2 separate regions of the Homo sapiens genome follow, and region 2 is linked to region 1. The links come from fine-mapping of genetic effects on gene expression. A gene starts in region 1. The other region holds a variant in brackets. All regions are shown on one strand. Distances are between the middles of the regions. Region 1 holds the start of SEPTIN1 (septin 1). Region 2 has its middle 7.4 kb from the start of CD2BP2.

Evidence for each region. PIP is the estimated chance that this variant, and not a neighbour inherited with it, causes the effect. A credible set is the group of variants that fine-mapping cannot tell apart.
Region 2: its variant is the best candidate, but not a certain one, in a credible set for the expression of SEPTIN1 in caudate (GTEx, PIP 0.89).

Annotation. Positions count from the first base shown.
Region 1 is chr16:30,380,576-30,384,963 of GRCh38, forward strand. It overlaps SEPTIN1 (septin 1), which reads right to left and starts at 1,986. Exons shown (of 11, transcript NM_001365977.2): 1 at 1,950-1,986; 2 at 1,700-1,790; 3 at 1,518-1,604; 4 at 1,185-1,308; 5 at 764-898; 6 at 552-669. The coding sequence starts at 1,967. It also overlaps a transcript of ZNF48 not described here.
Region 2 is chr16:30,345,739-30,350,126 of GRCh38, forward strand. No RefSeq gene overlaps it. Among named protein-coding and RNA genes, the nearest start is that of CD2BP2, 7.4 kb to the right of the region's middle. RefSeq lists an enhancer at 1,994-2,493. The variant T/C (reference allele first, on the strand shown) is at 2,349.

The DNA.
Region 1 (4,388 bases):
AACAGGTGTCTGCCACCAAGCCCAGCCAAAAAAATATTTTTTAAGTTAGCCAGGCATGGTGGTGTTCATCTATAGTCCCTGCTACTCAAGAGGCTGAGGCAGGAGGATCACTTGCGCCTACAAGTTCGAGGCTGCAGTGAGCTCTGATCTTGCCACTGTACTGCAGCCTGGGCCACAGAGTGAGACTCTATCTAAAAAAAAAAAGAGAGAGAAAGAGAGGCCGAGAGAGATATAAGCAGAAACAGTGGGAAAGGGCTCTGAAGACACGGGGTGGGGGCCAGAGGGAAGTCACTATGTTCTCATGTCTATGCTCCTGCCCTCAAATAGGCCTCAGCCAGGCATCTAGCCCGGGGGCTGCATATGTAGCCTATTTTGAGCCTTCAGAGACATGGCTATGCTGGCGGCTTACCACCCGCCTTCCTCAGAAGCTTCTCCTACAATCTAGCCTGATGCACCATGCTCCAGAAAGGCCACTTCAAGATCAAAGAAGTCTAAGCTGAAATCAGGTTTGGCTTCACATGGGGTCAAAGGTCAGAGGTCATCACTCACACCTTCTGCTTGAGGGCCTGGGTTTCCTGGGGCATCAGAGCATCCGCTTTGCCAATGACTGGGATGATGTTGACTTTCTCGTGTACTGCCCGGAGGAAGGCCACATCTAGGGGCCGGAGCCTGCACCCAGGGATTGGTCATTGCCCAGCCTCAGGGGGCAGAGACCCCCCAGCCCTCCCTAAATGCGCCAGCCCCCAGGATCCCCCCACCAGACCCCCGGCCGAAGGGTGAGATGAAGTAGAGGCAGCAGTGGACTCGGGAGTCCTGGATGTTCTTCCGGTTCAGGCCACTCTCATCCCTAAGGTACTGCTCAAATTGCTCCTCGATGAATTTCACCACCGGAAGCCAGCTGGGTGTGGGGAGAGGATGTGAGGTCAGAGATCAAAGGCCAGAGGGCAGGGGGCAAGGCTAGCCAGGACTGTGGGAGTAGAATGTCATTTCTTTGGCTCCCTCCAAAGACATTAAGGGGAACTGGTGGGGGCCTAGGTGAGTCATCAAGAAGCACAGGGACCCAGTGGCCCTCTGAAACAGACACCACCTTTTGAGATAGGGAGCCAGCACAAACCAGTCCTGTAACTCTCCAGGGAGTCGCCACTGTGAAAGGCTGAGCCTCTGTCCCCTTTCCTCTTCCTCACCAGTCAGAGCAGTCCACTGAGTCCCCAAAGCCAGGTGTGTCCACAAGGGTCAGCTTCACTTTCACACCCCCTTCCTCAATCTCTACGCCCCGGCGCTCAATGGCCAGGGTCTGTGTCAAGCGAGCTGTGGGATGGGGGAGAGGTCAGGGATCCGGGGAGGCTCTGAGGCAGAATTAATTTCCTTTGTCAATATCACAGTTGCCTGCACCCATTTCCCAGGGGAGGAAAGTCTCAGAAAAAAAGCAGTCAACTACCTGAGTCCCCAGATGGAAAAGACTAGGGTGTAACCTGGGGACAGGGGCTACTGCCTCAAGAGGGTGGGGAGGGTCTTACCACTGGCCTCTGGCACCTGGCGATCCTCATAGAGGTTGGTGAGGAAGAGGCTGTTGATGAGGGTGGATTTCCCTAGGCCTGACTCCCCTGTGGACAGAACAGGCCCAACTGGTCAGGGGAGGGGACAGCCAGGGCCTCCTAAGGACATCCCCTCCGCAGTTCCCTCTCCAAAACCCCCAGACCTGCCACCATTAGCGTGAAGTCAAACCCCTTCTTGACAGACTTGCGGTGCAGCTGGTTGGGGAGGGCAGCAAAACCCACGTACTCCTTGTCCTATGGATGGGGGTGGACAATATGAGGCTGCTGGCAATGGCAGGCAGGGTCCCCAGGATCACTTGAGTTCCTGGGCTAGGAAGAGTCAGTGGGGTCTGGGGACCCCAGGCATGGGGGCTGGGGGCCGAGATGCCCAGGTTTCTGGGTGTAAGGACTCACCATGACTCCGCCAGCCATCACTGCACCTGCCGTCTCTCCCCACTTCCTCTGGTGGGGCAGGAAGCTGAGTGCGGCTAACAAGGGGGCGGGCAGAAGAGGCAGCTGAGATGCTCAAACTGGCCCAGTCCCAGAGAGGTGGGGAAGGCCAAGGCCAAGAACACTTGGGGTTGCCACCTCCTGGACCCCTTTGCCCATCACCTGTCTACGTACCTTCAACCCTCCATCCTTCACACATCTGGATTCCAAGTCCCACTGTAGCTCCATCATCGTGGTGAGACATGGGGTATGTGCAGAGAGGAAGGAAGTGGCTCCCTTTGTTAGCAGGGGAGATGAAGGTTTTGATGAGCTGATTAGAAAACAGTTCCCAGGACGGGCAAGGTGGCTCTCGCCTGTAATCTCAGCACTTTGGGAGGCGGAGGAGGGAGGACAGCTTGAGCCAAGGAGTTCCAGACCAGCCTGGGCAACAGAGGGACGTGCCCCTCTACCATCTCTACAAAACATTAAAAAATTAGCCAGGCATGTTGGTACAATCCTGTAGTCCCAGCTACTGGGGAGGCTGAGGTGGGAGGATTGCATGAGCCCAGAAGATCAAGACTGCAGTGAGCTGTGATCACACCACTACACTCCAGCCTGAGCAACACAGCAAAACCCTGTTTCTTTTTCTTTCTTTCTTTCTTTTTTTGAGACGGAGTCTCGCTCTGTTGCCCAGGCTGGAGTGTAGTGGCGCCATCTCGGCTCACTGCAAGCTCCACCTCCCGGGTTCCCGCCATTCTCCTGCCTCAGCCTCCCGAGTAGCTGGGACTACAGGCACCTGCTACCGCGCCTGGCTAATTTTTTTGTGTTTTTAGTAGAGACGAGATTTCACCGTGTTAGCCAGGATGGTTTCGATCTCCTGACCTCGTGATCTGCCCGCCTCGGCCTCCCAAACTGCTGGGATTACGGGCGTGAGCCACCATGCCAGGCCAACGCTGTTTCAAAAAAAGAAAAAGAAAAAAGTGGACCAGAAGCCATGATGGGATTGGGAGTGGGTGAAGCCATACATTTTCCAGCTCAGACAATGGATTCATAAAAGGACTCCAGGTCTTTGGACACCACTGCCCGAGAGATTTTCCTTCAGAATCCTGGCCAAAGAACTCCACTGCTCAAAATCCTTCAGGAACTCCCCAGTAACTCAGAGTCAAGTCTGAATTCTGGCCTGACTGCCAAAGCCTCCCTCAGCTGGCCTCATCACCCCATCTCTCACTCTTCCAAACGTCCTTGGCTCTCTACCCACATTGAGCTTTTCCTTTTTCTGAATCAGTTAAACTCTTCCTCATCCTTCAAGTGTTTCTTTCCAAGGGCTCTGCCTCTATGCAATCTCTCCACCTACCCTAGGCAGGGTCATTGTCCCTCCTTCAGATTCCCAGCACCTGGCTGGCGTGGTGGCTCACACCTGTAATCCCAGCACTTTGGGAGGCCGAGGCGGGTGGATCACTTGAGGCCAGGAGTTCAAGACCAGCCTGGCCAACATGGCGAGACCCTGTCTAGCAAAAATACAAAAATTAGCCAGGCATGGTGGTGCGTACCTATAATTCCAGCTACTTGGGAATCTGAGGCAAGAGAATTGCTTGAGCCCAGGAGGTGGAGGTTGCAGTGAGCCGAGATTGCACCGCTACACTCCATCCTGGGCAACAGAGCAAGACCCTATCTCAAACAAACAAACAAACAAACAAATCTACCTCAGGACCGCTGCGGTGGCTCACACCTGTAATCCCAGCACTTTGGGAGGCTGAGTCGGGCAGATCACGAGGTCAAGAGATTGAGACCATCCTGGCCAACATGGTGAAACCCCATCTCTACTAAAAATACAAAAAATTAGCTGGGCATGGTGGCATTGCCTGTAGTCCCAGCTACTCAGGAGGCTAAAGCAGAATTGCTTGAACCCAGGAGGTGGAGGTTGCAGCGAGCCAAGATCGTGCCACTGCACTCCAGCCTGGTGACAGAGCAAGACTCCGTCTCAAAAAACAAAAAACAAACAAACAAAAATGCTACTTAATACCATCTAGGGACTGTTAAGAATCTGGAAAGGGGGGCTGGGTGCGGTGGCTCATGCCTGTAATTCCAGCATTTTGGGAGGACAGGGCAGTCGGATCACTTGAGGCCAGGAGTTCGAGACCAGCCTGGCCAACATGGTGAAACCCCCGTCTCTACTAAGAATACAAAAATTAGCCAGGCATGGTGGTGCACGCCTGTAATCACAGCTACTAGGGAGGCTGAGGCAGGAGAATTGCTAGAACCTGAGAGGCGTAGGTTGCAGTGAGCCAAGATCCTGCCACTGCACTCCAGCCTGGGCGACAGGGCAAGACTCCGTCTCAAAAAAATAAATAAGTAGGCCAGGCGCGGTGGCTCATGCCTGTAATCCCAGCACTTTGGGAGGCTGAGTCAGGCAGATCACCTGTG
Region 2 (4,388 bases), 35 kb before region 1:
GAGGTTGCACTGAGGTGAGATTGCACCACTGCACCCCAGCCTAGGAGACAGAGCAAGATTCTGTCTCAAAGAAAAGTCAGCAAATTAAATTTTAACCAGATTTAAAACTTTTGTTCTTCAAGATGATGACAGAAAAAAAAAAAAAGACAAGTCATGGATCAAGAAAATATTCACAAAACAGAATCTGACAAAGGACTCATTATCTGGAATATCTAATGATCAAGGTCTCTTACAAGTCAATCAGAAGACAAACAATTCAGTTTTTAAAACAGGCAAAACATATGAGCAAACACTCGACCAAAAATTTTGACAGGACTTTAGAGTCCCACAGACCTCGGTTAAAATCCTGGCTTTACCACCCTCAGGCTATGTGATGTTGAATGTCACCTCTCTGAGCCTCATTTTTCTCATCAGCAAAGTGGGAGAGATACGTAACTAAATAGGTAGTCAAGGAGATTAAACATAATATTCTGAACTTATTTAGGTCCCTAATAAATGCCAGACACCCTCTTCTTCCCCTGTCAAATAGAGGATGTATATATGTATACATACAAATATATATATATATATACACTTTTTGTGTGTGTAGAGATGGAGTCTGGCTATATTGCCCAGCTGGTCTCAAACTCCTTGGCTCAAGCCATCTGCCCACCTCAGCTGAGATTACATGCCTGGCAGAGAACGGGCTTAGTGTGTAAGCCGGGGAAGGCTGGGCCAGGTAAGAGGTCTCAATGTCTGAGGCCAGAGGGCAAATGCCCACATTGTATCCAAAGGAATGTGAAGTGTTCAAGACAGAAAAATGTGTCCCAAAGAGTGCACTGGAGCTACAAGGTCTGAAGCCACCAAGAGCTGCAAGGCAGCTGTATGGGGAGGGAATAGGGATGGGTGGGGTATCAGGAAAGTAAGAGCAAGTACGATGGCATCAGAATGGAGAAACTGGGCTGGGCACGGCAGCTCATGCCTGTAATCCCAACACTTTGGGAGACCCAGGCAGGAGGATCATTTGAGGCCAGGAGTTTGAGATCAGCCTGGTCAACATAGTGAGACCCCACGTCTATAAAAAATAAAAATAAAGGGGCTGAAGTGGGAGGATCACTTGAGCTCAGGAGGTCCAGCCTGCAGTGAGCTATGATCGCACCACTGCACTCCAGCCTGGGCGACACAGCAAGACGCTGTCTCTAAAACTAAATGGCAGAGCGCGGTGGCTCACAACTGTAATCCCAGCACTTTGGGAGGCCAAGGCAGGTGGATCACTTGAGGTCAGGAGCTCAAGACCACCCTGGCCAACATGGCAAAACCCCATCTCTACTAAAACTACAAAAATCTGCTGGGCGTGGTGGCGGGCGCCTGTAATCCCAGTTACTCAGGAGGCTGAAGAAGGAGAATTGCTTGAACCCGGGAGGCGGAGGTTGCAGTGAGCCGAGATCACGCCACTGCACTCCAGCCTGGGCAACAAGAGCGAAACTCAGTCTCAATAAATAAATAAATAAATAAATAAATAAATAAATAAATACAAATAAATAAGAAGAGGGAAACCAGAGGCTGCCAGCGCCTGCTGCTGACTTTTACAGGCAGGTCATGTGCCACGTCTGCATGGGCAGCTGGGAAGCTGGCATCTTACATAAAGGGACAGAGAAGCCTCCTGGGGAACAGGGGCCTAGCGGGGACAGGATTGCAGCCACCTGCAGCGGCCAACTGGAGATGGCAGCGGTGGCCCACCGCAGGGGGTGTAGGTGGTCAGGGGCCACTGAACCCTCCCCTGTGGAGCATACCCCCGAGGGTGCCCGGCAGCTGGGGACTGGGCTCCACAGGGAGTTCAGAGTGGCTGCTGACTCCACGGAGCACTGTTGTTACTTGGGCCCCACACAAAACATCTACCTTGAAATCCATCCTTGGGAGAAACTCCTCTCAGGTCTTGGCATCAGGAGGAGCTGGGCATGTCCAGGTCTCCGGCTTGGTTCCTGCCGGGAGCAGAACGGAAGGCAAGTAGCTCAGCCTGACCCCCTGCCTGGGAGCCTGGGTGAAACGACTAGCAGCACGTCATCAAGCTGGCCGCACTGCCGCTCTAGGGTCTGGGTAACTAGACACTCCTCATGGGAAGGGGTGGCAGATGTGGCAGAGACGTGAAGAGCCCTCATTCCTCCGGCATGAGGAGCCGGAGCCTTCACTTATTTGAACCCTGCTGGACTCCTGTGCAGGCCTTGTCTCTCACAGGGCCACAGCAGCTGCCCAGGACAGAGTCTGACGCCCCAGGCCTCTGTCAGGAGTGCCGAGACTTCCTTCCCCAACTCCTGCTACTTCTCTGAAGAATAACCTGGCCAAGGCAAGAGGCTGCATTCAGGCCTGGG[T/C]GCCATGGCTCACGCCTGTAATCCCAGCACTTTAGGAGGCTGAGGTGGGCGGATCACCTGAGGTCAGGAGTTCGAGACCAGCCTGAGCAACATGGTAAAACCCCGTCTCTACAAAAAAAAATTGCAAAAATTTAGCCAGGAATGGCGCCATGCATCTCTTGCTCCAGCTACTAGGGAGGCCGAGGCAGGATTACTTGAACCCAGAAGCCTGAGGCCGCACTGAGCCATGATTGCACCATTGCACTCTACCCGGCTTGACAGAGCAAGACCCGGTCTCAAAAAAAAAAGTTTTAAGTGAAAAGCAAAGAACTTCACCTCTGTGGTCTTCCTCCCTAAACTCCATAAACCAAACCTATTCATGAGAAAAAGGATCAGACAAACCCAAATTTTAGGAATATTCAACTGGGTGTGGAGGCTCACACCTGTAATCTCAGCACTGTAAGAGGCTGAGGCGAGAGGATCACTTGAGCCTGGGAGTTCAAGAACAGCCTGGGCAACATAGTGAGACCTCATCTCTAGAAAAAAAAAAAAAAACATATATATATATAATGCGTATATATAATGCGTATATATATATGCGTGTATATGTGTATATATATATGCATGTATATATATATAATGTGTGTGTATATATATATATATATATATACATTTTAAATTTATAAAGTTGTTTTTAAAAAGAATATTCTGAGGCCAGGTGCGGTGGCACACACCTGTAATCCCAGCACTTTGGGAGGCCGAGGCAGGTAGATCACCTGAGGTCAGGAGTTTGAGACCAGCCTGACCAACGTGGTGAAACCCCATCTCTACTAAAAATACAAAAATTAGCTGGGCATGGTGGCACACGCCTATAATCCCAGTAACTCGGGAGGCTGAGGCAGGAGAATCACTTGAACCGGGGAGGTGGAGGTTGCAGTGAGCAGAGATCACACCATTGCACTCCAGCCTGGGTGACAGAGAGAGACTCCGTCCCCCGCCCCCCGTCCGCCAAAAAAAAAAAGAATATTCTACAAAATACAAACCAGCACTCCTTGAAACTGTCAAGATCAACAAAGGTGAAGCCTGAGAAGCTGTCAGGCTGAGGAAGCTAAGTAGATGTGACAACTAAATATAATGTGGTGTCACAAGGGATCCTGAAGCAGAAAAGGACATTAGGGGAAAACTAGAAAAATAAAAAAAAAGTGTGAAGTTGAATTAGTAAGAAAAATTTTAAAAAAGGGTGAAGTTGAATTAGTATTAATGTACCGTACATCCACACAATACACTGTTATTCAACAATAAACAAAAGGACTGGGCACGGTGGTTCACGCCTGTAATCACAGCACTTTGGGAAGCCAAGGGGAGCGGATCACCTGAGGTCAGGGGTTTGAGACCAGCCTGGCCAACATGGTGAGACCTAGTCTCTACTAAAAATACAAAAACTAGCTAGGTGTGGTAGCACAGGCCTGTAATCCCAGCTACTTGGGAGGCTGAAGCAGAATCGCTTGAACCCAGCAAGCAGAGGTTGCAGTGAGCCAAGATCGTGCCACTGCACTCCAGCCTGGGTGACAGAGCAAGACTCCGTCTCAAAAAAAAAAAAACAATAAACATAGATGAAGATATCCACATGGCTGAACTTGAAAGCATAGGGCCAAGTAGAAGCCAGACCCAGAAGACCACATATATGATTCCATTTATCTTCAATGCCCAGAAGAAGCAAATCTAGAGGCAGGAAGTAGATGGGTGGTTGCCAGGGCTGGGGGGTGAGGAAAGGTGGGGAGTAGTGAGAAGGGGCTACTCATGGGTCAGGTTTCTTTCATGGTAGGAAAAAAAGGTTTTAAAATTAGACTGTGGTGATGGTTGCACAACCCTGTGAATATACAAAAAACCACTGAAGGGTACTGAAGCGTGGTGGCAGGTGCCTGTAGCCCCAGCTACTCGGGAGACTGAGGCAGGACAATCCCTTGAACCCAGGAGGCAGAGGTTGCAGTGAGCTGAGATCGTGCCATTTGCACTCCAGCCCGGCAACAAGAGCGAAACTCCATCTCAAAAAAAAAAAAA